Regions from separate parts of the Homo sapiens genome. Here regions 1, 2 and 4 are each reported to be linked to region 3. The links are microRNA targets in miRTarBase. Many come from high-throughput screens and were not tested one by one. Region 3 holds a microRNA gene; each other region holds the end of a gene's coding sequence.
Evidence for each region. The annotated mature microRNA hsa-miR-548f-3p reads AAAAACUGUAAUUACUUUU and lies in region 3 at 4,925-4,943, opposite strand. An mRNA with a match to its seed (bases 2 to 7 or 8) in the 3' UTR can be bound and repressed. Matches are read on the target gene's strand: a 7mer-m8 pairs with bases 2 to 8, a 7mer-A1 pairs with bases 2 to 7 and ends in A, and an 8mer does both.

Region 1: miRTarBase lists TRIM13 as a target of hsa-miR-548f-3p. Seed matches in the 3' UTR shown: 7mer-m8 at 1,150-1,156, 7mer-A1 at 3,119-3,125, 7mer-m8 at 3,202-3,208 and 8mer at 4,461-4,468.
Region 2: the mRNA of DNTTIP2 is a reported target of hsa-miR-548f-3p. Seed matches in the 3' UTR shown: 7mer-A1 at 5,764-5,770.
Region 4: miRTarBase lists SKA2 as a target of hsa-miR-548f-3p. Seed matches in the 3' UTR shown: 7mer-m8 at 5,900-5,906 and 7mer-m8 at 5,595-5,601.

The regions. Positions count from the first base shown.
Region 1 is chr13:50,012,033-50,019,157 of GRCh38, forward strand. It overlaps TRIM13 (tripartite motif containing 13), which reads left to right. Exons shown (of 2, transcript NM_213590.3): 2 at 1-6,435. The coding sequence ends at 1,132. It overlaps KCNRG (potassium channel regulator), which reads left to right and starts at 3,412. Exons shown (of 2, transcript NM_173605.2): 1 at 3,412-4,039. The coding sequence starts at 3,462. All of the region lies in intron 10 of DLEU2 (deleted in lymphocytic leukemia 2), which reads right to left.
Region 2 is chr1:93,863,689-93,870,813 of GRCh38, forward strand. DNTTIP2 (deoxynucleotidyltransferase terminal interacting protein 2) reads right to left here. Exons shown (of 7, transcript NM_014597.5): 6 at 6,995-7,104; 7 at 2,596-6,256. The coding sequence ends at 6,163. Among named protein-coding and RNA genes, the nearest start is that of DNTTIP2, 12 kb to the right of the region's middle.
Region 3 is chr2:212,421,360-212,428,484 of GRCh38, forward strand. MIR548F2 (microRNA 548f-2) reads right to left here and starts at 5,001; the gene lies at 4,904-5,001. All of the region lies in intron 1 of ERBB4 (erb-b2 receptor tyrosine kinase 4), which reads right to left. It overlaps LOC124906116 (a long non-coding RNA gene), which reads left to right and starts at 4,132. Exons shown (of 2, transcript XR_007088065.1): 1 at 4,132-4,916; 2 at 5,003-7,125. RefSeq lists an enhancer at 5,633-6,166.
Region 4 is chr17:59,105,613-59,112,712 of GRCh38, forward strand. It overlaps SKA2 (spindle and kinetochore associated complex subunit 2), which reads right to left. Exons shown (of 4, transcript NM_182620.4): 4 at 4,245-6,733. The coding sequence ends at 6,665. It overlaps TRIM37 (tripartite motif containing 37), which reads right to left and starts at 1,268. Exons shown (of 24, transcript NM_015294.6): 1 at 829-1,268. The coding sequence starts at 849. LOC124904039 (a long non-coding RNA gene) reads left to right here and starts at 1,484. Exons shown (of 2, transcript XR_007065864.1): 1 at 1,484-1,979. RefSeq lists enhancers at 356-1,015, 672-721, 932-1,061, 1,016-1,675, 1,152-1,251 and 2 more and a silencer at 1,382-1,491.

The DNA.
Region 1 (7,125 bases), not on the chromosome of region 3:
AAAATGCTTAGAAGGTATCTTAGAAGGGAGTGTGCGGAATTCCTTGTGGAGACCAGCTCCATTCAAGTGTCCTACATGCCGTAAGGAAACTTCAGCTACTGGAATTAATAGCCTGCAGGTTAATTACTCCCTGAAGGGTATTGTGGAAAAGTATAACAAGATCAAGATCTCTCCCAAAATGCCAGTATGCAAAGGACACTTGGGGCAGCCTCTCAACATTTTCTGCCTGACTGATATGCAGCTGATTTGTGGGATCTGTGCTACTCGTGGGGAGCACACCAAACATGTCTTCTGTTCTATTGAAGATGCCTATGCTCAGGAAAGGGATGCCTTTGAGTCCCTCTTCCAGAGCTTTGAGACCTGGCGTCGGGGAGATGCTCTTTCTCGCTTGGATACCTTGGAAACTAGTAAGAGGAAATCCCTACAGTTACTGACTAAAGATTCAGATAAAGTGAAGGAATTTTTTGAGAAGTTACAACACACACTGGATCAAAAGAAGAATGAAATTCTGTCTGACTTTGAGACCATGAAACTTGCTGTTATGCAAGCATATGACCCAGAGATCAACAAACTCAACACCATCTTGCAGGAGCAACGGATGGCCTTTAACATTGCTGAGGCTTTCAAAGATGTGTCAGAACCCATTGTATTTCTGCAACAGATGCAGGAGTTTAGAGAGAAAATCAAAGTAATCAAGGAAACTCCTTTACCTCCCTCTAATTTGCCTGCAAGCCCTTTAATGAAGAACTTTGATACCAGTCAGTGGGAAGACATAAAACTAGTCGATGTGGATAAACTTTCTTTGCCTCAAGACACTGGCACATTCATTAGCAAGATTCCCTGGAGCTTTTATAAGTTATTTTTGCTAATCCTTCTGCTTGGCCTTGTCATTGTCTTTGGTCCTACCATGTTCCTAGAATGGTCATTATTTGATGACCTGGCAACTTGGAAAGGCTGTCTTTCAAACTTCAGTTCCTATCTGACTAAAACAGCCGATTTCATAGAACAATCAGTTTTTTACTGGGAACAGGTGACAGATGGGTTTTTCATTTTCAATGAAAGATTCAAGAATTTTACTTTGGTGGTACTGAACAATGTGGCAGAATTTGTGTGCAAATATAAACTATTATAAAATCTGTTTCAAGTATGCAGTTTTCTTTTGTTAGAAATTGTTAGAGAATAGAGAGTGGTAATTCAGATTTGGTCAACGATTCTAGTCACATATTTTCCTCCAAAAGTATTCCTTCCAAAAATAATCTATACATGTTCAAATTAGGTAGCATAAAGATAAAAGTGAAATTTAGTAGTATAGGCCTGAACCTTTTTTTGTTTAAAAGAGTGCTTTTGAAATAAGCATCCACCCCAAATGTTGGTTGTATTTATGCTGTGATAAAAATAGGTGAGAGATCATATGATCTAATATTGTATTGATGGAAGTATAGGTAGTATAGTAGTGATTGTTCTTCAAGCATGCAGTAAAGATCACTTTTTTTTTTTTTTTTTTTTTTGAGATGGAGTCTTGCTCTGTCGCCCAGGCTGGAGTGCAGTGATGCAATCTTGGCTCACTGCAGCCTCTACCTCCCAGGTTCAAGTGATTATCCTGCCTTAGCCTCCTGAGTAGCTGGGATTACAGGCGCGTGCCACCACGCCCAGCTAATTTTTTGTATTTTTAGTTGAGACAGGGTTTCACTGTCCCTTAAGACCATCCTGTTAGCCAAGATGGTCTTGATCTCCTGACCTCGTGATCCGCCTGCCTCGGCCTCCCAAAGTGCTGGGATTACAGGTGTGAGCCACCGTGCCCAGCCAAAGACTGCTCTTAAAGCACCTTTTTGACAGTGAACATGGTCTAAAAAAGGGAAGATATTGTAGAAGATTTCACACACACACGCGTGTGTGGGAGACAACTAAAGGTATTGAAGGTACTAATTAATTAGATTTCCAAAATTTTCTACAGAGAGTTAATTATCACCAAAATGTGAATGGTACATACAAAACCTGGCATTTTCTTGTGATAAGTTTACATTTTTAGGAGAGTGGAGCTTTCAATCTGCCCTTTTCTCCTTTGTTTTTGTAGTTTTCACCAAAGATGATCAACTAGAAATGTTAAGTGGCTATGCAAGCAAAAGCATAGATAGGTTAAAAAAAAGGATCAGCTGGCTGGGCAGGGTGGCTCATGTCTATAATCTCAGCATTCTAGGACAGTGATGTGGGAGGATTATTTGAGGCTAGGAGTTCCAGTTCGAAACCAGCTTCGTAAACATAGCAAGACCCAGTCTCTACCAAAAAAAAAAAAAAAAAAAAAAAAAAAAAAAATATATATATATATATACACACACACACACACATATGTACACATACATATATATACATATATATGTATATATAGAACACATGGCAAGAGCAGGAAATGGGAAGACTACCTTTTTTCTGGCAGCTATGTGTTGTTTTGTTCGAAAGATGGCAAGTGTACAACCAAACCAATCCACTTGCTTACAGAAAGAATGTTTAGTGTAGTTAAGACTAATTTGACAACAGATAAAACAGTCTGTCAGCTATTACAAAGTAATCAGCTGAACACTAATGCTGTTCTGTCTGCTCACAAGAGATAAAGATACCCTCTCATGGAATAAACACCTTGCTTAGAATTCATATAACAAAGAAGTAACCTTATAACTGCTCTCTAGTCTGCCTTATTTGTGTCATAGAGTAAGATATTCCTTGAAAGCCCATTAAGTGGAATAGACTTTCTGAAAATAAGAGTTCTTTACCTCAGTCCTCCTCTAATTTGGTTGAGAGGAGGTAATGAAAATGGGGACAGGATAAAAGGTGGCAACTAAATTTAAAGCACAGAAGAAATGATTTCCTTCTAGCTATGAGAATAGTCAAATTGAGCTTGCCAGGCTGTCTCATTCCTAACATGTAATTCATGATTTAGCCACTAAATTTCTAAGGAGATCATAAGAAATTAAGAAAAACGTTTAAGTCTAGCCTCTGCGTGGTAGACAGGTATGGGGAGGGAGAATGCTTTTCCCCTCCCAGTAATAAAAAAAAAAAAAAAAAAAATATATATATATATATATATATATATATATATATATATATATATATATATATATATAGTTTTACTAGGTTTTCATGGATAAGTTTTTAAATGTAAGACAGGAAAGGGATCTATTTGATGTCTATCTTCAGATATATTGGCAGTTTTCCTTAAGCTATTTAGTTCCTCATCTGTTGCTTTTTCATTTTGTATACTGCAAGTTCCCAGGCAACTCGAATTTGCAAACACAGCCATGGATACACTATTTACCTTACAGTAGTTTCCTGGGAATCTAAGTCTGGTTTTTGTTATTCTTCCCTCCCCTCCACTGCATAATCATGTATAACTAGCAACATTTATGGTTATAGGTTGATTTCCTAAGTGTGGCTGATGGTAGCCTCTAGTTTGAAGTGAGGGAAGAATGAGTAGTCAGGAACTGGTCACTTTGAATGTGGGAGGGAAGATATTCACGACAAGGTTTTCTACGATAAAGCAGTTTCCTGCTTCTCGTTTGGCACGCATGTTAGATGGCAGAGACCAAGAATTCAAGATGGTTGGTGGCCAGATTTTTGTAGACAGAGATGGTGATTTGTTTAGTTTCATCTTAGATTTTTTGAGAACTCACCAGCTTTTATTACCCACTGAATTTTCAGACTATCTTAGGCTTCAGAGAGAGGCTCTTTTCTATGAACTTCGTTCTCTAGTTGATCTCTTAAACCCATACCTGCTACAGCCAAGACCTGCTCTTGTGGAGGTACATTTCCTAAGCCGGAACACTCAAGCTTTTTTCAGGGTGTTTGGCTCTTGCAGCAAAACAATTGAGATGCTAACAGGGAGGATTACAGTGTTTACAGAACAACCTTCAGCGCCGACCTGGAATGGTAACTTTTTCCCTCCTCAGATGACCTTACTTCCACTGCCTCCACAAAGACCTTCTTACCATGACCTGGTTTTCCAGTGTGGTTCTGACAGCACTACTGATAACCAAACTGGAGTCAGGTATTTTGTACTTTGCAGTATTTCTCTTGTATACCAGTTTGTGATGTTTTCTCTAAAAACTTGAAGTTCCTCAGGCCTGTAACTTCTGGAAAAGATGATTATTCAAAATAATGTTTTGGGGTAACCAGTGGAGTTGGGTAGAATGACCAAATAATTATTTTCCAAACTGGGATACTTTTTAGAGTGAAAGGGGCTATTATTAGGTGGGACAAAAGGAATAAATGAAGACTGCCCAGAAAAAACTGAGACTATGGACATTCAAATCATGGGAGAAAATAATTTTGTAGATTATGTTCCATTGCTAATGAATTTGACTTAGAAAAGAATTGCCTTATTTTTAAGAGATTGTTTCAGTGGTTCACATAAAGGCTCGCTCACTGGTTTCTCTTGAGTTCCTTACACACTATATAAGTTGTTCTTTCAGTTTTATGATTCAACTACTGTTTTTCCTTCAGCTGACTTTATTTTTAAACACCCTTAAAGACAGATATATCTCATGGCAAATTTGGTATCCTGTTACAGCCTTGGCTCTTAAACAACTCAAAATATTGGGATAGGCTGTCAGTATGTTAAGGATAGTTGCTCCTGAGTCAATTCTTCACTTACTCCCTCTGTTGTTCTTGGCTGGATCCTAACGCTGATTTCCACTCTGCTGTCACAAACATTTTTCCCCCCGTAAAATGTCTTAATGCTGTCCTACCATTATTTTACCAACTGTGAAAGCTGGCTTTAATTTTTAGGAGGAAAAGAAAAGCCTGCATGTGTTCTTTATTGGTATCATTTAAAATATACTTTTTTTTTTTTTTTTGGTAAAGGTAGGCGTATTTTAAGATATTTTCTTAACTTGAGCAGTAGCCAACAGGAAGGATACCAGTGTCTCTCTCTCTTAGCGACACACTCCTTGGTCTTGCTTACCAACTGGAGGACACTAGGTAGAATAACCGAGTATGACAATTCTTAATTGTTTACATTTTATAACTTCCTGTCCTTCAAAAGAGTTTGAAATGTCATTTTGGGAAAAGAGAGCCAGTCAAGCTAGTAGGCTGATTGTGAAGAAAATCTAATACCTTATCTTTATCTCAAACCTCTGTACAACTTTATTTTCATTGATGGGATACTTTAACAAAAATGAAATTTTTTTTGGTTTTTAAAATATGAGTGATTATGACCTCTTTGGGGATCATGCTTCAAAAAGTCAGAAACCTAGAGACAAAACTGTCATTGATTTTTAAGAAGAAACACACTAGGTCAAAAGAAGATGTCCTGGAAATACGAAGTACTCTTTAAAAACCATGCATTTGGAGAAAGTAATTGTTTCCTTGAAAAACATGATTAAAAACTAAAACTGGGATGTTCCTGTGTGTACACAGTGCCAAATGGTTTTCCCTTTTTATGTTGTGTTTTAGAAACAGCACGAAAGTTTTTTCCATTTTAAAGTGAGAAAACATTATATTTAGACTTCCATAATTCCAAAATCAGAAGCTATTTTTAAAATTAGCATTTTCTTGCATCACCAAATGGTATTCAATTGTTTGAAGCTCAAAATTTTTACCATTCCATAAATGTTTGTGAATTTTTAGACAGTGCCAATTTAAAAGTAGAGATAGCCAATCTGAATACGGTGAAATTATGGGGATCTCTGGTGATTGGGATGAAAACTCTGGCCTTAAAAGGTCCACTTTTAGTATATAATTGCCTAATTAGCAATCATTTTTATTTTTTGCTCACTCCCTGGTCTGAATCTATCTGTCTATTCAGATATTTTTTGGTAGGTTTGGAAAATGGAGAAGTGAGCCTAATTGGTGCCTAATTGTCTGGTGTATCATTCACTTTATTCAGTTTGTTCTATCAATATGATTTACCCCTCAAGGTTAACCTAGCAGGTTGCTCAGTTATTATCTCTCAAGGTCACAGTACTAGAAATACTTGGCTTGCATCTTTCAGATGCCATTCATGTTATCAAGCTCAAATTATAGTTGGTCACAGGATTCTAAAGTCTTTATTTGACTTCTCCTTTTTGAACTGGCTCAAATGGAAAAGTGTAGTTGCTTTTAAATGTTAAAAATAAGTTTAAACTTTATATTTCCCATTGGTTTCCCCTATTTTGTCCTTTCTTTGTGTGCTTGAAATATTTTATTTTTCAGTTTGTCCTCATAGGGAATCAAGTATTTTAGCTAGGTGATGTCTTGCAAGTACGTTCCACTTTGTTACAATCTACTATCTGTATATACTATTTGTATCTTAATTCTTTTATGAGATGTTCTGTAACATTTTTCTCACTTTGACAAATGTTTTTAGACTGTACAGTCAAGATCTGGCGCTTGGGGGTAAGTGGAATGATTTGCTAATATTGAGAATCTGTTGTATCAAACATAATAAACTTTTTTTGAGATGTGCTTTGTAGTTTGGTAATTCTTAGATTTTACTATTGGTTTCTTTGCTTAGAATGAGTTTCTAAATGTGAACTACAAAAACCACTCTACTTCAAGCATGATCATTAGAAGAAGGTTAGGGATGTCCCCAAGCATCATTTTATCCCTTAAAACTACAGATAGTTTAGGTTTCTGCCTGAACTAATCTAAGTTAGCTTTTTCTTCACATCTCATAAACTAATGGTGGGAGGACACAAAGAGCTTTATGAAAACATTTTTGATGGCAGATAAGGACGGAGTCATAAAGCTGTATCCATGCAGATGTGTTATGCTGACATTATTGTTATTATTGAGATGGAGTTTCACTCTTGTTGCCCAGGCTGGTATGCAATGGCGTGATCTCGGCTCACCACAACCTCCGCCTCTGGGGTTCAAGTGATTCTCCTGCCTCAGCCTCCCGAGTAGCTGGGATTACAGGTATGCACCACCACACCTAGCTAATTTTTGTATTTTTAGTAGAGACGGAGTTTCACCATGTTGGTCAGGCTGGTCTCAAACTCCCGAGCTCAGGTGATCCACCAGCCTCGGCTTCCCAAAATGCTGGGATTACAGGCATGAGGCACTACGCCCAGCCTATGCTGACATTATTAAAGCCAACAGATAGCTAATCTGAAAAGTTCATGTGCATTTTTTTCTTTTTTTCTTTTGTTTTTT
Region 2 (7,125 bases), not on the chromosome of region 3:
GTCCCTGACAATAAGTGCTATATAGACATTTGTTAAATAGAAATAAGTGGAGTAAAAATAAGCACAGGCAAATAGGAGTATATACATCCGTGTAGAGAATCTGAAAAAGGCTTTCTGAAGCATGTAGACTGTCAGCTCTGTGATGGCTAGGATGACCTCCTTTCCTGTGCACCCCTAGCACCTAGTGTGGTGCCTTACACAGAGGAGATGCTCAAAGTATTGGTTGCTGAATAGGCTTCAGGTCAGTACTATTTTGTTAGGTGAAATGGAGGCAGGAAAGATATTTTAGGTGGAACTAACCATATGAACAAAGACATAAAAGGTGAACCTGTCATGGTACTTGGTGTGCATGGAACTCAGTATATGTTGATTGAATGAATGCTCAGTATCAAGTAGTTTGGTTTGGCTGAAATGTATCAGTCTGGTTTGGACAGAAAAACACATCACTCTAGAGAATTTAATATAGGGAATTGTTCCACAGGTGGCAGAAATGCTGAAAGTGTTGGCAACGCAGATACTGCAACAGTAGGAAACGTCTACCACCTCTAGTGCCAGAGGGACAATGGGAGATGGTGTTACCGGAACCTGGAAGCCTGAGTCATCTGGCTGGTGGGGGCTGGGAGCATGGTGGGGCCACAACCCAAACCAAGGCAGAGGAGAGAAATACCCTGGTTTATTTCCTCTTCATGCCCCTCTGTCTTTTGTCAGTGTCTTACTGTTAAGCCAGTTGGCAAGGGAATCTGGGAAATGTAGTTTCCTGCAATCCAGACACTCCAGAGCAGACCAGAGAAAGGGTGTGAAAAGAGCTGAGAGAGAAATAGGCAAGTAAGTAGCACAAGTGAAGTTTAGGGCATGAGTAGGGAAGCAGTGAATATAAACCTGTGGTGGCGTCATTTTGTGGAGGGGCTTGAATGTCAGGTCTTGAATGTAGGGTTTCTGTATGTGTCATTACGCAGAGGTGAGCCATAGAAGGTAAAATGCAGTATGGCCTCATTAAAACTGTTCAATGGGGAGGTTGGGGGAGAAAAGGGAAACAGTAGCTTCCCTTTGAGTACTTGTTATTTACTAGGCATGGTGCTAGTTTTTATTTAATCATCTCAGAAAAATGATGTGTTTGGTTCCAGATACGTGGAATTTGAGATAACTTACTAGTACTTCATATGGGTAATTTGCACAGTTAATTGGAAATGTGAGTCTGCAACAGAGGGTGGGGGATAGAGATGTAAGGATGGAGACTCTGGTGTCATCTGAAGAGATGAGAGCAGAAGTTGAAGGAGAGGGAGGACAAGATACTCAAGTCAAACAGTATCGAGAAAGAAGATGAGGGCAGGCATTAGGGAAACCAACAATTTAAGTGATGGACAGAGTAAAAAAATAAAGAGTAGGTAGGAGAAGCAGAAAAGCTGATCTTCCTACCGAAGCAGAGTAGCTGAAGCCTCAAGAAGGGGAAGATCAGTGTGTCAGATGACATTGTCTGGTTAGAAGGGATGAAGACTGAGAAAAAAATTGAATATAGCAGTATGTAGGAACAGTTTCTCTAGACTGGTGGGGCCATGAGGAGGTAAGGCAGCCTTCATCAGATGGCCATGGCTGGTTTAGCGGAGGAGGAGTAAGTAGTTTGCTGAGGCTAGGCGTGGAAGTTGGGTTCTGGGAGAATGGAAGTGTCCTGTATCTCCTGCGTGCTCTTTGGGTGTAGAGGCTGCATTAGCTTCCCTGCTGTACCCAAGTGCTTATATAATGCACAGGACTCAATTATTTGTGTTAGCTGACTCGCAGGATGAATGACTGAATTTGGCAGAAAGTATTTAAAATTGAATAAATGGATTGTGGAGTGGCAGTGAAAACCCAGCTGAGTCAATAGCTTCATTATACTTTCCTGAATCTCAATAATCTAGACTGGTAAGAATAAGAATAGTGAGTGTTTCCCTGACTGGGATTGGTGAGGCGAGAGTAACAGAAACCAAAAGACTATTAATAAAGAGACTAGCGGGGCATACAAAGAATTTTTGAAATGTCTGATGAATTGGGTCTAGATTGGTTAGGGAGAAAAATGTATCTTCATGAGGATAGAGGATTCAGAGAATGAGTGGCTGAAAGGCTTGAAATCATGATTTCACAATGTTTGGGGGGTGAGACCCAGGCATCAGCATTTTGAAGCCACCATAGGTAATTCCAAATTGCAGCCAAGGCTAAGTTGGAGACAACTGAAGGGAAGACTAACAGGATAACAGATAACAAGATACAAATTGGGGTAGTCTGAGTTAAGAATCTTGACCACTGAATTCTCAAACAACGAGTCTAAGGCCATGATAGTGATTCGCTAAAGTGAACTGGAAATGAGGGTAACTGGAATTGATAAAATTGAGCTTGAGGAACTACAGGGCCATCTTGATTTGAAGGTATGTCTTGTATGTCCTCCTAGAAATCCTCTATGCACAAACTTACCTAATTTTACATTTCATAGTTCATTGGAGATGTCTCATTTCTCCAGTGATAGAACACTGATCCGCTTATGACATTTAATTATAGGTCATGGTATTGATCCTACTTCTTGGAAGATTTTTCTTCACTTCAAAAACTATGTGACAATGAGAATAATTGCACTTTACATTTTAATTAGACAGATGCTTGGGGAATTGGTTAATTAGAAAGCCCTTTTTGTTGCAACCCTTACTGAAAACTTTCAATAAAGATATTCATCTAATTAAATAGTAAGTACAAATTCCATTAAGTAAACAATTAGGCATTTTTCAATGGTTTGGGATCTATTGTAGGTAATTATTCTGAACAAGTTGTCACTGCCTGAGAGACTGAATACCTGGTACATCTCTCAGAAATGTTAACTTTTTTTTCCCATTATGGTATTTTCTTTAACTTGCTGTTTCTAAGAATGGGATCCTATTAATGTATACCAGTTACTAAGGTTTTGTTGAACTTTTTTATATAGCCTCCCCACTCCCCACTCCTTTTGTGACATCTAGTTATGGGACCCAAAAAAGACATTTTCCCAGGTTTCAGAAGAGGAATATTGGTGTTTCTCTAGAGCAGTTGGTTTATCATACAGCAGAACACTGAACACAGAACTGATTGTGTTGGATGCTAAGAACCTAGCCCAGAGCCCAACTTTATCAACTGTAGTCTTACAGCATCTACTTTGTTTTAAGAACATTTTGGGCCAGACGTGGTGGCTCCTGCCTGTAATCCCAGCACTTTGGGAGGCTGAGGCCGGTGGATCACCTGAGGTCAGAAGTTCAAGACCAGCCTGGCCAACATGGTGAAACCCCGTCTCTACTAAAAATACAAAAATTAGCCGGGTGTGGTGGTGGGTGCCTGTTAATCCCAGGTACTTGGGAGGCTGAGGCAGAATTGCTTGAACCCGGGAGGCGGAGGTTGCAGTGAACCAAGATCATGCCACTACACTCCAGCCTGGGCGACAGAGCGAGAGTCCGTCTCTCAAAAAAAAAAAAAAAAAAAGCATCTTGGAGCCAGATGGTGTATAAATACAGCATTCTTTTCGAAATCTTTCAAGATCTTCTCAGGGGTATCTTGAAGGTCTCTTTCACCAGCACACCTGACTGTGGCAGCCCTTTGGATTCTTTATACTTTTCTGGTATAAAGCCTTCAAATAGTTCCAGTTGGCTGGGCATGGTGGCTCACACCTGTAATCCCAGCACTTTGGGAGGCCGAGGCGGGTGGATCACTTGAGGTAAGGATGGCAAAACCCCATCTCTACTAAAAATACAAAAGTTAGCTGGGCATAATGGCATGCCCAGTAGTCCCAGCTACTTGGCAGGCTGAGGTATGATAATCGCTTGAACTTGGGAGGCGGAGGTTGCAGTGAGCTGAGATGGCACCACTGCACTCCAACCTGGGTGATGGAGTGAGACGTCTCAAAAAAAAAAAAAAAAGTTCCAGTAGGTGAACTGAGTTTAGTGACACAGGCCAAAGTCAGTAAAACCTGTTTCTCAAAAGACTTGCTTATTAAAAAGCAAAACATAACTTCATCCATTATTTAAATATCCAGGTATTTGTAGAAGGCCAGAAGCACTAAAGGATACAATTCTCTCATACTGGGTCCTTATTTTATCCAGTAGAAGGCAAAACATAGTATTCCAGAAACAAAAGTAGTTTTTTTTTAAAATAAAAGAGAACAGACATAGATGCTTCCCTAACTCCAACTATGAATGTTATTGTCAGTTCTGCTATTACTAGCTTTTGACTCCAAGCAGTAAATATGAGATTTTGGACATAGGTATGGGCAGACTGCATGACTAAAACACCAAAAGCAATGGCAACAAAAGGCAAAATTGACAAGTGGGATCTAATTAAACTAAAGAGTTTCTGCACAGCAAAAGAAACTATTATCAGAGTGCACAGGCAATCTACAGAATGGGAGAAAATTTCTGTAATCTATCCATCTGACAAAGGGCTAATATCCAGAATCTACAAAGAACTTAAACAAATTTACAAGAAAAAACCCCATCAAAAAGTGGGTGAAGGATATGAACAGACACTTCTCAAAAGAAGACATTTATGCAGCCAACAAACATGAAAAAACGCTCATTATCACTGCTCATTAGAGAAATGCAAATCAAAACCACAATGAGATACCATCTCATTGCCAGTTAGAATGGCAATCATTAAAAAGTCAGGAAACAACAGATGCTGGAGAGGATATGGAGAACTAGGAACACTTTTACACTGTTGGTGGGAGTGTAAACTAGTTCAACCATTGTGGAAGACAGTGTGGTGATTCCGCAAGGATCTAGGACCAGAAATACCATTTGACCCAGCAATCCCATTACTGGGTATATACCCAAAGGATTATAAATCATTCTACTATAAAGACACATACACAAGTATGTTTACTGTGGCACTGTTCACAATAGAAAAGACTTGGAACCAACCCAAATGCCCATGAATGATAGACTGGATAAAGAAAATGTGGCACATATACACCATGGAATACTATGTGGCCATAAAAAAGCATGAGTTCATGTCCTTTGCAGGGACATGGCTGAAGCTGGAAATCATCTCAGCAAGAACAGAAAACTAACACAAGAACAGAAAACCAAACACTGCATGTTCTTACTCGTAAGTGGGAGGTAAACAATGAGAACACATGGACACAGGGAGGGGAACATCACACACTGGGGCCTGTTGTGGGTGGGGGACTAGGGGAGGGATAGCACTAGGAGAAATACCTAATGTAGATAGGTTGATGGGTGCAGCAAACCACCATGGCACGTGTATACCTATGTAACCTGCATGTTCTACACATGTACCCCAAAACTATTATTAAAAAAAAAAAAGATTTCATATTTGCTGATATCTCAAGGAAGCAGTATGCTGGAAAAATAGAGGTAAAGTGAATAGTAACATAAAGGAAGCTACAACTCACCAAGTATCAACAGAAATGACCAACACTCCTTGGGTGCCAGAAACCAGCTTAGCCAGGGTGCATACTGTACCACTGGAGAAGAGGTAAGCTGGGTTAACTTCGAAGAAACCCTGGCCAACTTAAATTATAGTTTAATCCTGTTTTACTTGGACCACAACACTTAAATCTAGATAAAAACCAATTATTCCTCCCTGTTTCAGTTGCCAAGCAAGGAAAACAGCTCCTCTGCCCAAGCTTTCTAGGTCATATTCTTCATATCTTTGTATCCCAACTTTCTGGATCTGAATTTTATAGCTAACTATAGGGCATTGCCTCTCTACCATCTCCCGTCCCCTACACAGACACACACACACATACACACATAAAACTACCTATTAATTACAATAATGTTTATATATCTTTGATCATTTTTTAAAGTTCTTTGAACATGTTAGCAAACTTTATACTTCCTATCTTTTAATTAAATTTTCTTTAAATAACTAAGCATTGAAAACTTTACAAACCATCAGTTATCTTAAAATGGTTGAGATTTTTTTTCCTTTTTTCCCATAAAGAGTCTACACCAGGGTGGGTCTTTTAGACACCCCTATTTTCTAAGGGCATGTAATCGATTCTCAAATCAACTTTTTCCAAATACAAATTCCTGTATGAACAGGGCCAGTCTATGGTAAATTAATTTAGATGATGGTGTTAGTTTTCCAAACGTCTTTAATAAGTAAATAAAGGAGCAATGTAAAATGTTGCAGTTTGCTTGGTAAATCTTAATTGCGAAATTTCTTCTTCTTTCGGAACTTTTTTCCTGCTGCATTTGCTGCTTTTTCAGCCATGATCTCTGAGTACTTCCTTCGGTTGTATCTGAAAAAGAAAAATCAGAACTTTATGTTTGATATATCAGACATTAGAAGTTAATATAACCTTAGGGTAAAAGTTGGGAATGGAGTGGTGGACAAGACAAGTATAGTCTCTGACCTCATAGCACTTGCTTGCAATCTAGGGAGAAAAAATGGCAACTGTAGTAGGAAGACTTTCCTACTATATGCACTATATCCATCTATCTATCCATATATCCATATATGATCTATATATGCACTATATCCATCCACCAGGCTGTATCAAATGCTTTAAACATTTTTGAGGGATAAAAACACAAAAATCAGGACTAAGCAAAACAAAAAGTCACACTTATCCTGAAAATGCACAGTATGATATATATATTTCTTAGAAGCGACCAATGGTTTTCAAAGTGTGGTCTGTGGAGTAGACCCTTTCAAGGGATTCATTAGGTAAAAACTATTTTCTCAAGAATACTAAGGCATTAATCGCTTTTTTCACCCTCGTTCTCTCATGAGTGTAGTGTTTTCCAGGGGCTACGTGATGTATGTTATCTGCAGAAGCAGGTATGAGCCTCTGTCTTTAGTTAAGCCAGACATTAAAGAGATTTGCACTAAATTATTTTTCATAAAAATATATATTCATGTTAATATGTTATGGGTTATTATAAATGAGTTATTTTTAAATTATTTGAAAATTTATAAGTTTATACATTTTTAAAGCAAAGTATACATATTATAAAATAAATATGAATTCCTTTACCTTCTGAATTCAGAATCAGCCAGCAGTTCTTCCACAATAGTTCTTTTCCTTTGCTTCTTGGGAATTCGTGAATGGTAGAAATCAGCTGGATTGTCAACAATGGTTCCAATCTGTGAACAATTGATTGAAAT
Region 3 (7,125 bases):
CCAGTTTTCAGACTAAAGGCTCTTCATGCTGATAAACTGCATACATATATTGAACCAACAATTCCACAATTTCAATTGACTTAACACTTTTCTTATGTCATCTAGTCTTGTTTTCTATATCTAGTGTCACAAGTAGTACAAAATGTTCAACATATTATAGTATATGAGAAACCACTTTCCTTGGGAGCTGTCATTTTGGGATATTGTCAGTAAGAATGAGGAATTCTCCATCATGCCTGGTTTCTTACACTGTTCAACTGAAAATTAGTGTTTTTCAAAAATGTCTTTAAGAACCACTAAGTGGAAGAAGATGGAAGATTGTCAAAACTATCCACATCACTACACTAGGAAAATTTGAAGACATGAAAAATGGTGTGGTTTTCTGTAGGGTTCTCTGTTTGAAAACACAGAATTCTGACCTGATTGCATAGCTCTGGATAATAATGTATTGGAGTCATCTGTGTAATCAAAAGAGATTAAAAATTCAACCACTAAAGTGAATCAATGTGTTTAGGAATACTGTTGAAAAAGTCTAAATAATTTCAAATGAAAAGTATATTATCTACACAACTCTAATTCAAAGTTTGCATTAAGAAGATATCTAACGAACAAACATGCAGAAAAGAGTTATTACTTCAGGGAAGGCAAATATGATGATGTGGTGTCATAAGGGAAACATGCAGTTTTAAAGATGTCCACAGTGATAATTCACCATTGAAAAGTATCCCAGATTTAGAATCTTGTAATATGACTAAATAGCAGATTTCTAATTGCTCAATGGGATAATACATCATCTGTCCTTAATATTTCCTGAATGCTGGTGAATTGTCACAAAAGCATTCATGATTAAGAAACAACAGGGAAGCCTGGGAGCAGTGGTTCATGCTTTAATCGCAGCACTTTGGGAGGCCAAGGCGGGTGGATAACTGGAGGTCAGTAGCTCGAGACCAGTCTGGCCAACATGCTGAAACCCTGTCTCTACTAAAAATACAAAAATTAGTGGTGGTACATGCCTGTAGTCCCAGCTACTCAGGAGGTTATGGCAGGAGAACTGCTTGAACCCGGGAGGCAGAGGTTGCAGCGAGCTGAGATCATGCCCCTGCACTCCAGGCTGGGCAACGGTGTGAGACTTGGACTCAAAACACACACACACACACACACACACACACGAAGCGGGAAAAATTCTGGTGCTTCGCAAAGTCATCACAATACAAATCAAAATAAATTTGTCTTAAGCCACTTAGACAATACTAACCAACTTTCACCAGGTGTAATCCATGCACAACCAAAACCTTTTACTGTGAGAGCGAAGCTCTTATGGAGTTCTACCTCATCAGTGATCTACCATTATAAGATATAAAAGACTAGTAGATTCTATTCATGAAACCATTTTTCTTGGCTTGGTATTAATTTTGGTAAGAGATGAGTTACCAAGTTAGAAATTAGTGTGGTCCCAAATTAAAACATTAAAAAGAACCACCTAAGGTAAATATAAATATGTGATATAAAATTGTCAAAATGAATCCTTTCAGACCTTACATCATTTTCAATGGGAAGTATATATCAGTCATTGCTAACAGCTGGTTAATATTATGTGAAATACCACAGAGTACAATAGCTTTAAAGAATTTTTTATTCTTAATATATGAATTCTATATTCCATATTTTTAGAAGAAACCAAAATAATAACTTGAGTAAGAGGATAAACGATGAAAAATGTAAAGTAATCTGTGTAAATAAATACTCTGAGTAAAGCTAGTAACATAACCATATCTATGACACTTAAGTATATAGGGTTTAGGTAAGTGAAGGGGGCAAAAAAAAATGCAATTATAAGCAAATTCAGAATGATCAGCATACATAGAGGAACAATTAGTCATATGGGCTGAAAACACGTTACAGTCACCAAACACAGCACAAAGAAAAGCTTTGTAACACAGCCACTATCTTTCTAAAAAGTGACAGCAGAAGATGCCAAAAGCTACAGTGATTATCTGAATCACAGAAAAAAGAGGTGTCACCTTTGAGCTGAAAGAAGACCATGTATAGAGGTTCAACTAGTAATGTCAAGAGTTGGTAACCATTGGCAAAATAACATGCATCTTCAGGGAGAAAATGCCATATTGATCATTTCAGTTCATACTATAAGTAGAAAAGCAGCAACTAAGTATGACACACATGTGCCTTATTTTTATCTACATATAAGTTGTCTGCTGTATAAAGCTTCTGGGTTAGTGTACAAACATATATATGAAAATGATTAAATGTTAATTGCTACCCATATAGCATAATCAAAATAAAAATAATTGTAATACTGCATGCATATCTATTTCTAAAATTCTTTAATTGAAGTCTGTGCATTTGATGCTGTCTCTTGATAGCTTTGTGTTTGTATATTCAAATTTAAGGAAGGTGATACACCATGCAAACAGAACCCTTCATTAAGGTATACTTTCACCTGATGAGAGTAGACACTCACTTGACTTTATGATTTGAATTACTGAACCAATGCTACAGGAGAGTGTGCCTATGGCCCAGATTTTGTACATGAGGTATTTTTTCCCAAATTCCCAAAAGTTTATTATTAAAACCTAAATAACTTTTTGGAATTTTATGTTTAATCATAAGCTTTTAAAAGTAATAAATTCTAAAATACAATCTACAATTATTAATTAATCATAATCATTGGCAATAATGGCTTAATATAAGCTATTTCTTATTAGATGTTGTTTAGCATTTTATCTTAGAATTCATTTTGGTGTCTGAGTCTCCTTGGGGCTAATACAAAGTTGATGTATAGGATACATCAAGTCATCCTATAATCAACTACCTACTTAGCTATTAGAACCTAAGAGACTATCTTTGTTTTACTTTCAAGACTTCAGACTGATGAGTCATTAAATAAATATGTACTGAATGCCTACCTACTCTGTGTCTGGTACTGTGTCTGGACCTTACAATGGTAGGACTTTCCCTGCCACTAGGGAGCCTACAGAATGAGTGAAATTCTGTGCCATTCCTGTTGACTCCCCTTCAAGCTATTCCCCATGCACATATATCCACATATATCCAAAAGAAACAGGTAAAGTCCATCTATGCACATAAAAGCCCACTTATTTTTTCTCCCAATTATAAGAGAACAACTTTTCAAGGCTATATAAAAAAGAGAGCCTTGCTATTTTCTAACACGTATTTTTACAGACAAGTAGTACATAGTATATATACTAAAACTTTGCTAAACAAATCAAGTTGATGTCTTACTGGAGCAATGAATTGACCTCTAATAACAGCTATAGCTCACCTATAGTAATCAGATAAAACTAGATTACCCTGGATTAACAAATTTTTTTTTGTTTTCTTTTTTTGTTTGTTTGTTTGTTTTTGGTGTAGAAGGGGAATGTTGTGAAAGAGAACAGTTGGAAAACCCAAAAATATACAAATCCACAAATACTTAGTTTATGTCTATAAACAAAGAAAAAGCCTTTTACTTATCTTCAGAAATGAAAGTATAAGCACAAAGACAATTGATCAAATTATTAATTGTGGTCTTCTACTGGAGACTATGACCCATGTCATTTTAGTTATACATAAAGAAAAATAATGGTGTAGGTGATACCTAATGTTATCCATGTATCCGTGAAGAAAAAGTACTGCACAGAAATATGAACACAACTAATCAGATTTATCTTTTATATATGACATTTTATAGATGCTAGCAGATTTTTCTAAGCTTTCTTAAAACTGTCATTATAAAATATTTGTAATACTAAAGTCAAGAATTTAATTTAGTATCATGGATCTAATTCATTAACTCTTTTGAAGTAAAAGTAAATCAAATTTTAATAAACTTTAGTCTGACAATATTTGCTCACATTAAAAAAATTATTTAGAACTTTAACATGTGTGATATATAATAAATAACAGATATATATTTTACATATAATATATAATATATATGTGTTGGATAAATATATAAGGATACATATATATGAACATATATGTATATGTATACATATATATGAACATATATGTATATGTATACATATATATGTATATACACACATATGTATCCTTATATATTTATACAATAATCAGTATATTATTACAAAGTAATTGTATATTTCTCCAAAAATAAGGAGGCAGTGGTTATTTAAAACAATAATATCAAAAAGTCTCCTCAAAATAAAACACATCCATATTTTAACATAATTGCAATTTGGTCATATTGGTTATAGTATAAACATAATATTGATTTAGAAGGACACATTTTTCAGATCTTAGGAAAATTACAGGTAACAAATTCATCATTCCTCCATCTCCCTCTTCCCTTCTTGGTTACACTGTATGTATCTTTATCACTTCACTATTTATAAAGTGATCTATCAATGAACAACATCTTTTAAATCACTGTCCTTGCTTCATTCTTTTTCCTAACATTTTCTTGCTAGTTGGTATCCATCATTCTTACCCACATTTGGGGAGATAGAAAAGTTTTTGTATTCCTCATTTTGTTGTACCTATCCACCTAATGCCTTAAAAATCAAATTATTAACATGCAGGATAAGTCACCTAATCATGAGAATTAGCAGCTTTTTGGTTTAATTATAATCATAAACTTTTCTTCTGAATCAATGTTCACGTATTCAATCATTTATCTTCAGAAATGTCTTCTTATATCAAAAATTCAAATCTGAGACTTTATCTCCTTTCACATTTTACAATGTCTGAACTTCTTTATAATCTATTTTAGACTCTAACAACTTTGTAAATATATTACTTGTCATTGTTCTCTACTTTTAAGTTTGAATGTGATATCACTCTTTATAGAAGGCTCCAAGCAAATCTGAGAATAAGTTTTGAATTGATTTAGTTACTTTTTACGTGCATTTATTTCCAAATGCACACTAAAATATTAGGTTGGTGCAAAAGTAATTACAGTTTTTGCCATTAAAAGTAATGATAAAAACTGCAATTATGTTCGCACCAACCTAATAGTTATTAGAAAGATGGTGGTTATACAAATTAGATCTCTTTCGTCACACATTTTCTTCTAAATGTATATTTTCAAGTGTCTTAGTAATTTCTTGCAGCTGAAATAGAGAAGCTGATATTTTTATTAAATAGTTTTCAGAAAACCTCAATCTCTTTATCTCTACCACTGCTCTTTGGCTTTCTCTAAACATACACCTGTATGCACCATAAATATATTTATTGTGAATATGAAAGTTCCTCAAGGTTCCTGCGTGTTTATATCTAACATCACTGATCTATAAGGCATATATTAAACTTTAGTGCTTCTTTAGTAATAATGATGCGCTTGTACCACCACCTATCCACACTCTCACACAATCACCCCTTTTGAAGTAAAGCCTATATTTTAAAAATAACCATTACAGATTGTGAGTGCAGTCTAGGATCACATAGCAGAACTAAAAGCTAACTGGCCCACCCACAAAGTAAATGTGAGACAGAGGGCTCGGGGTAGCCATACTCTAGCCAAGTAGTACTGACAGATACCAATAGATATAATCAAATGTTACACATTTGTGTTTGCAAACGGGATAAATATTTTCCTGACCAATCTATACTTTTGATGATTCAAGCTACAGGATAAGTTTTAAAAATGTCTTTTGCACTTATCTACATTACTTAATAGTATCTTCTTGTCATAGACAACTGTTTTACACCATTTTAGTAGGAAATCAATTTGTCATTCAATTCCATTTTCTAATGCAGTAGTCCAACCCAACCCAGAATGCATTATTGATATGGAAATGAGTGTAATTAGCAGCGTAAATGATCTGTTATTTATGATACAAGTCAGAGCAGTAAATCACCATTGGCTCACTATCATTACTATGCAAATAGAAGAAAGCAGTTAATGGTCCATGTGTTTAAAACAGGCCACTTGCTTGCTCATTTGCAAATGAAAGGCAAGGGTGAGAGTTTAAGGTAGAGATGACAGTTTATCATATTGTCAGTCCTGGTACTTGGACTTAAGAAAACCAAGACACACCAATCATTATGCTAGTTTTAAACGTTATCCCCTTTCTCTACTGTATATTCTGCCTCGAACCTATTCTTACAGCACCTTCAAACTTATTTTGGGTTCCCTGTGATTTGCACATTGGAAGTGGAAATAATTGTGAGAGTGCTTGTAAGTGTTTCGCACTGTATGAGATAGTTTTTATGCCATATGGGAAAAACACAATAAAAATTCACTATTATGAAATAAAATAGCATCACTGGTCATATAATTCACTTCCTTTTCCTACAAATAAATTTTATTTTCTTGTAAGGAGAGAAACTAGCAATAATTTGAGTAGTTAGAGAATAAAGGAAATATTTGTGAGCCTTACTGGAATTTATTCAGTATACCTGAAAGAAATTGGTCTGCCTGTCCTGGTTGCTCTCTTTTCGTTTAATATTCCAGGGAATGTGAGAGCTTGTGGGGAAACGTGAGTGCATTAGCAGCAGGCCAATGCTTGCTTAGTGAAATGGGAACAAAGGCAAGACACATGAAAAGCTAGAGGAAGAAGAGGGATTGAGGGCAAATGCAAATTCTGCAAGCTTCACTTGCATAGATCTGATCATTTTTTAAAGTATTTGACAGACTTTCAGAAATACAGAACTGAGAAAGAATAATAATGTCTTTATATTGAAGGTGTACATAGTAGAAAGGATCTCAATCTCACATAAATTATCTCCATTTTGCAAATATATAAATAAAACTGACAAATCACTTATGAAACCTTATTTTGGTTTGTTGTTATTTTTATTAAGCTATGGATTCAAGAATGACATACAAATTGGGCATGAATTTTATATACAGGAAATGATAATAATATTTAAACAGTAGAAAATACTTTTTCTTATACCAACATTTTTTCTTAAATTATATGTACAGAGTGGTTGGAACAATGCTTTAATTCATCTTTCTTATCAGCTTATGTTTTGTAAATATTATGTTTTTCTTTAATTCCAAGGAAATAGCTAGGCCATTATATTTCCTTGCCTCATTGGTTTTTCCAGAGATAATCTTCCTTCTTGGCTTTTGTTTTTGAAACCTAAACCAGGAAGAAAGATTATATGAGGAATCTGAAAAAGTCAAATTCATAGAACCAA
Region 4 (7,100 bases), not on the chromosome of region 3:
TAATACTTTATATGAGGAATTAAGGAGAAAATTACTCATTAATCTCATCATGACTCTGTAGGGCCAGAAAGAACCTGGGAGATGCAGATTCTGTAACCTGCAACGGGGTGGACAATAAGACTACTGAATGACTAGTTTCAAGTGGAATATCCATAACATAGTTACCCCTTACTAAAAAGCAAGGATTTCCTATTTCAGTATCTGAAAGGTTCAAAATTTGATAATGATTACACAATTATGTTCAATAAACAATCTTTTAAAATATATTCCTAGCCTTTACTTACATATCCTACATATCCCAACTATTTTAACTCACAGCTTACAAGAATCAGTTATAAAAAGAAGAGTTTGTTCTGGAAACTACACATGAGATAATATATGCTGATTCAATCTAGGAAGGAAGGGCAGAAGCCTGCAAAATGTGCCACTGAGAGGGAAAGATGACTATCCATTTGGAAGGAGATTTAGATCAGCTCAAGAACTCGCAAGGACTGGTGGCGAGTGGCAGGGTACATCCATCTGATGAATCTGCAGTTTTGGTCGGAAAAGGATGCTGTTTGCAAACACCCGGTGGGGATGAGTACCTGTGCCAAGACATCCTTGAAAACTCCAGGATACGCACCACCTGACTGCGGAACAGTGAGCACAAGACACCCGGAGCGCTGCAGAATGGGCACGGCATCCTTGGTACCGGGCCAGCCCTCTCCACAGCGGCAGGGGCGGGGTAGGGGTGCCCTACTGGAGGGAGGACATGGGCACGACTCCCCGAATAAAAACCGCTCATCGGGTGGGGGCGGGGACTAACCACCACCCTCACAACCCCCTCACCTCCACGCTCTGTTCATCCATTGCCTCCGGCTCTCGGCGGGGCCGCTGGCGACCCGCAGGCTCCGCAGTCTGACCTCTTAGGCGCCGGCCCGAGGTCGCCAGATCAAATCGCCGATAAAAGCCCGGCGCCCACGTCAGGGGGCTCTGACAACCGCCCCACCTGCGCGCCCCATCTCTTCAGGTCCAGCGCCGCCTACCCCCATTTCGCCATTTTTACCGGCGCGCCCGCCCCGAGGCGCAGAAGTAGGGCGAACGGTGGCCGCAGCTCCTTTCTCCCGGCTCAGCCGCCGGCCAGCAGCCGCGCCGGAACCTCGGCCCACGTGACGCGGGCGCGCGCCTATGGAACTGACGGTGGAGTTCAGCGAAGAAGGTGCCGCAGAGAATTCGCAAACACCAACCGTAACCAGAGCAGCTGGGGGCGCGGCGGCGAGAGAAGCTGCGAAGCGCATGCGCGCAGGACGCTGTGGGAGGGGAAAGGAGGGGAGGAGCGTGGAGCGATCGCCTAGTTCCCGCGTTGCGGGGCGCATACGAGACTTGGCGACTCGCTGCCTCAGGGTTGCGTGCCTCCGGCCCTAGCCTGCGCAGGCGGCCTGAGCTTGGGGCTCTGCTACGCCACCCACGCCCACCTTGGCGGAGGGCGGGGCCCCACGGCTCTCAAACTTGCGCGCCAAAGACGGAGCCACCTGGCGTACTGGTGGAAAGCGCAGACTTCAGAGCCACACCCGTAGTTAAGTATTCGGACTCTGAGATTCCAGGGTGGGGCCCAGGCCATCCGCGTTTTCACCCAGCATCGTGTGATTCGGCAGCAGGTGGTCTGTGGCCCGCACTTTGAGAAACCCTGGTGCAGAAGGTTCATGGTTAGTGGTTCTCTCTGGAAGGAACAGTCTAAGGTTTGTAGGACTTGCGTTCCACCTACCAAAGCTAATCGAGTTAGAAGGCTCCAAACTGAGGTGTCATTTCTCATTACGGTGGTGAGAGGACGGGACCACACACTGTGAAGTCTTCGTTCCCACATCCCACACTTCATTCTTGCCGCCTAAGTTGTCGCCGTGGGACTATTGAAAGGGTATCAGCGATATTCATCTTTCCTATAAATGGGATCTGCTTTCTACAGTTTCCTGCCAGATGTGTAAAGATTGCAAGAATTGAAGGTTTGTGAGACAAAGAGGGCATATCAAATTCGTAATTTGAATTTAATTTTTCCTGTATTTATTGCAAACAACTAATTATACTTAACCGACCTAGAGTGCACATGTAGAGAATCACTAATAATCTAGAAATAAGTTCTTGAATATCAGGCATTTAGGCTTATAGGTGGTGGGTAGCAACAATTTTTTTTAACTACTTGGGTCATGAACAAGATATAATTTAGAAAGATTAATCTGAGACTGAAAAATTCTTTCAGTAAGAATTATTTGTGGTCTTTGACCTACATGGAGCTATTTTTACGAAAATGGCCTCAGTTGTACATTTTTAAATGGTTGATGGTTAATATTATGAGAATTTTACTTAAAAGAATTATTTATAGAATGCAGTGCTAGGCCTGGCGTGGTGGCTCACACCTGTAATCCCAGCACTTTGGGAGGCCGAGGCTGGCGAATCACCTGAGGTCGGGAGTTCGAGACCAGCCTGACCAACATGGAGAAACCCCGTCTCTACTAAAAATACAAAATTAGCCGGGCGTGGTGGCGCATGCCTGTAATCCCAGCTACTGGGGAGGCTGAGGCAGAAGAATCGCTCGAACCCAGGAGGCGGAGGTTGCGGTGAGCCGAGATCGCGCCATTGCACTCCAACCTGGGCAACAAGAGTGAAACTCCGTCTCAAAAAAAAAAAAAAAAAAAATGCAATGCTGTACTTGGGATTCAGAGTAATGAGAAGTGGCCCTTGCTCTCAAGGAGCAGTACAGAAGACAAATAAGACAAATTGCAATACTTACATGATAAATAGTTAAGATTCTTGTATGTTTGCCGAAGAACCTAAGAATGTCGAAGGACTTATTGCACCAATTCATAATAGCGAACAATTAGAAACCTGTACAGCTGATTAGAGGCCGTTGGTTGCAAGCAAAAAGGATAACTTGAGCAAAATAAATAATTTAGTTGGCAAGATGCTAAACTCACATCGTTTGCCAAGCCCTGGGGTTTGAGAGCCAACGGTCTGCTCCATCAGAATCCCTTAAAGGCTGACCTTGCTGCCCTCCCCACAAGAAAAATCTCCTAACTTCATACATATCCTTAAATAACTTGCTGTTATACAACTTACTTGTTATATTATTTGTATAACTTGCTGTTATAGAGCTTAAATGTCTATCACTAAGGAACTGATAAAAATGACTATATATCTAGCTGGGCATGGTGGTGCACACCTGTGGTCCCAGCTACTCTGGAGGCTGAGATGGAAGGATCACTTGAGCCCAGGAATTTGAGGCTGCAGTGATCCAAGATCACACCACTGCACTCCAGCCTGGGCAACACAGCCAGATCCTGTCTAAAATTAAAAAAAAAAAAAAAGTATGGTATAGCCATATAATGGATTACAGCTGTTAAAAAGAAGGGTGGATGTGTGACATAACAAAAATATATTAGAATTGAAGACCGGGCACAGTGGCTCATGTATCCCAGGACTTTGGGAAGCTGAGGCTGGCAGATCTCTTGAGCCCAGGAGTTGGAGACCAGCCTGGGCAACATAATGAAACCAAGTCCTACAAAATATACAAAAATTAGCAGGGGTTGGTGGCATGCATCTGTGGTCCCAGCTACTTGGGAGGCTGAGGCAAGAGGATTGCTTGAGCCCTGGAGGCTGCAGTGAGCCATGATAGCAACACTGCATTCTACCCTGGGTGACAGAGCGAGACCCTCTCTCAAATAAAATAATGAAATGAAAAAAAATCTAAGTACAGCAGCAGTACAAGGCATAGTATCAACCTACTTTTGTTGAAAAAAATTTTTTTTAGTTTGTATACATGTAGAAATGCCTGAAGCAATTATTTGCAGATTACCTCTAGATAATTTATATGCCTGTTTTGTTGTTGTTTTTTTTTTGTTTTTTTGGGTTTTTGTTTTTTTTTTTTTTGAGACAGAGTCTCACTCTGTCGCCAGGCCGGAGTGCAGTGGCGCAATCTCAGCTCACTGCAACCTCCGCCTCCTGGGTTCAAGCGATTCCCCTGCCTCAGCCTCCCGAGTAGCTGGGACTACAGGCACGTGCCACCACACCCAGCTAATTTTTGTAATTTTAGTAGAGACAGGGTTTCACCATGTTGGCCAGGATGGTCTCCATCTTTTGACCTTGTGATCTGCCCGACTCGACCTCCCAAAGTGCTGGGATTACAGGCGTGAGCCACCATGCCCGGCCATGCCTGTGATTTTTAAATTCTTAAACATGTATTATTTATAACTTAAGACATAAAGACACTATAGTCACATAGGAGAAAACAATTATAATCCAAATGAGAAACAAAAGATCTAAATTAAGGAGGTGTGAAGATAATGTAGAGGTTGTATACTATGACCATTTTAGAAAGAGGATTGTAGGTTTTATTGACTAAGAAGATAAAGGGATGCAAATTAGTTATACAGGTTTTAATTCCAGACAACAGAATAGTGGCTATTAACAATAAAATCAGTAAGTATTCTGGACATGTTTAACTTGAATATTCAGGTAGGGGATTTTATTGGAAATACGGATCTAGAGCTAGTGGAAGAAGTTATATTTAGGAGTCATCCACAAAGAGGCTTGAGAAACAAATGAAAATGTATTGAGAAGTGCATAGAGAACAATGTTAAGGGGGCTGTGGGGAAAAAACAACATTTGGAAGATAACTGAAGGAAATCATAGAGGAAAAATAGTACAATCTAATTTTTCTCCCTAACTGAAAGCAAAACCACTTTTAATACTAAGAATTTATTATGATCTCTCCATGATACTACCGTTTTTTCAATCCCAACAATCATCATCACATCCCAGAGCCATCTCATGACAAGAGCTTTCTAAATACTAATTGCCTGAACACTGAAGAAAATTAATATCTGATACTAAGGTGTAACTTATTTCTCTGTAATTAAAAAAAAGGGGGCCAGGCACGGTAGCTCATGCCTGTAATCCCAGCACTTTGGGAGGCCGAGGTGGGTGGATCACCATCAGGAGTTAAAGACCAGCCTGGTCAAGATGGTGAAGCCCCATCTCTACTAAAAATACAAAAAAATAGCCGGGCGTGGTGGCGGGCGCCTGTAATCCCAGCTACTCGGGAGGGTGGGGCAGAGAACTGCTTGAACCTGGGAGGTGGAGGTTGCAGTGAGCTGAGAGCGTACCACTGCATTCCAGCCTGGGCAACAGAGTGAGACTCCGTCTCAAAAAAAAAAAAAAAAAAAAAAAGGCTTTCTGTTCTTGAAATATTCAAACTAGACAGGACAATTTTAACTGAAGCTGTTCTCACAACCCTGTTTTTCAGCTATTATAAGTTTGTTAATGGACAAACATGTTCATAACTGAAATTTTAAAATTACATAAAAGTATAATTCTATAACCTGCAGAACTAACATTTGATGCATTTTTCCTAGTCCTTTCAATGCTTAGTTTTTATTACATGTATGTAATATCACTTATTGAAGGCTTACTAAATACTGAACCCTGTATTAAAACACTTTCCTGTCTTGTCCTTCCAAACATCCTGACACTCAAAAGTTAAGTGATCTGCACAGGGTCATAGCTAGAATTTAAAAGCTGCTACTTACATCTCAGATATGACTCCAAAGCCCAATCTTCACTACAAAACTGCAATACCTGCTTTCCCTCTCCCCCACTTAGCATAGTTTCAGCATTTCCCAGAACATTAACAGTAATAATTTATTGGCAACTTGACCTCTTATTGTATACATACAGCATGATTTATTTTCCTATTCACCTAGTACTAGCCAAATGTGTATGTATATTGCTATTATAAACAACCCTGTGATTAACATCTTTCTATCAAGATCTGCCTCTACTTTGAACAGTTTCCTTATTGCCAATAGTTATTTTAAAATAAATAGTTATTTTAAAGGGAAATTGACACATACATATAACACACTCACGCAAAACTGGCAAGTAGCAGATAAGTGCTCTTCTAATTTCAGTTTCCTAGCTTTCATGTAGAATGAACAATTATAGTAATAAAGGCTGAAGGAAAACAAAGATATTATTGAGATACAACAGGGACAGTCTAAAACAGCATCAGAAAGCAAGTTCATGCTGTTCAACATTAGCAGGCAAGGGAAATAGGGAAAGAAATACGCAAACGTGGCTATCACAGAAAAGCCAGCTTATTACTTTAGGTTCTGTGGGAGACTACAGGTCACATAAAAGCAGTCTCAACAATAATGTGACCACATGTGCAATCAACATTTACAAAATGAAATTATATATCATGTATAACACAAATGTTTTGCCTATACTTTAATTTACAAAGCCACATACCGAATGACTGAAATGTACATAAACATTCTTTTATGATAGACCAGAACATCTATATTATCATGACTTAGAAAAAGAAAACAGATGCAAAATAGTGTTGAGAATTTCTGGCCTGAAATTACAAGACTAAGTGTGTGTGTGCATGCGTGTGTACATATATTTAAATCGTTTTATTCTCATTTGATCCTTTTGGCTGAACTTTATTCATATATTATCTGCCCTTCTTCTTATAATCTCTCTCATGAAAGATATCATTATCCAGTCATTGAAGCCAAACCCCCTTCACCAGCCCCCAATCTCTAGACATCAAGGGTTAACAAGACATCTTCCTAAATTTCTCCGGAATTAAGCTCTTCTCTGTTAGAATTTCCTTTCCAAGTCCATTTCTTCATAAATCTGGCATGTGAAATTTGAATTGCTCTGCCGCAGTTTTCTCTTCTTTAGTCAGTGGTGACAGCTAGAAAATAAATGATAAAATCTTTATTTCAAAAACTTTCAAAGACTTAAATCAGTTTAGTTAACTTCTGCATTGTCACACCAATAAATGTTTCCCTAAGCTTATACTATGTATGTAATCACAGATTTAGAAAGGCAAGGGAAAAAACAGATACTTGGCTATTTATATACAAGGTCCTATGATGTTTGAGCTTCTAAAGAACTTGCAATTAAGTTGAAGAAACAAGACCAAGAAATCAAACAATTTAAGGATTATAGCAGAACCAAAGAAGTCATGTTTGGATGCCATATTCTAAAAGTACAGTCAACCCTCAGTATCTGTGGGAGATTGATTCCAGGATAACAAAATCCACAGATGCTCAAGTCCC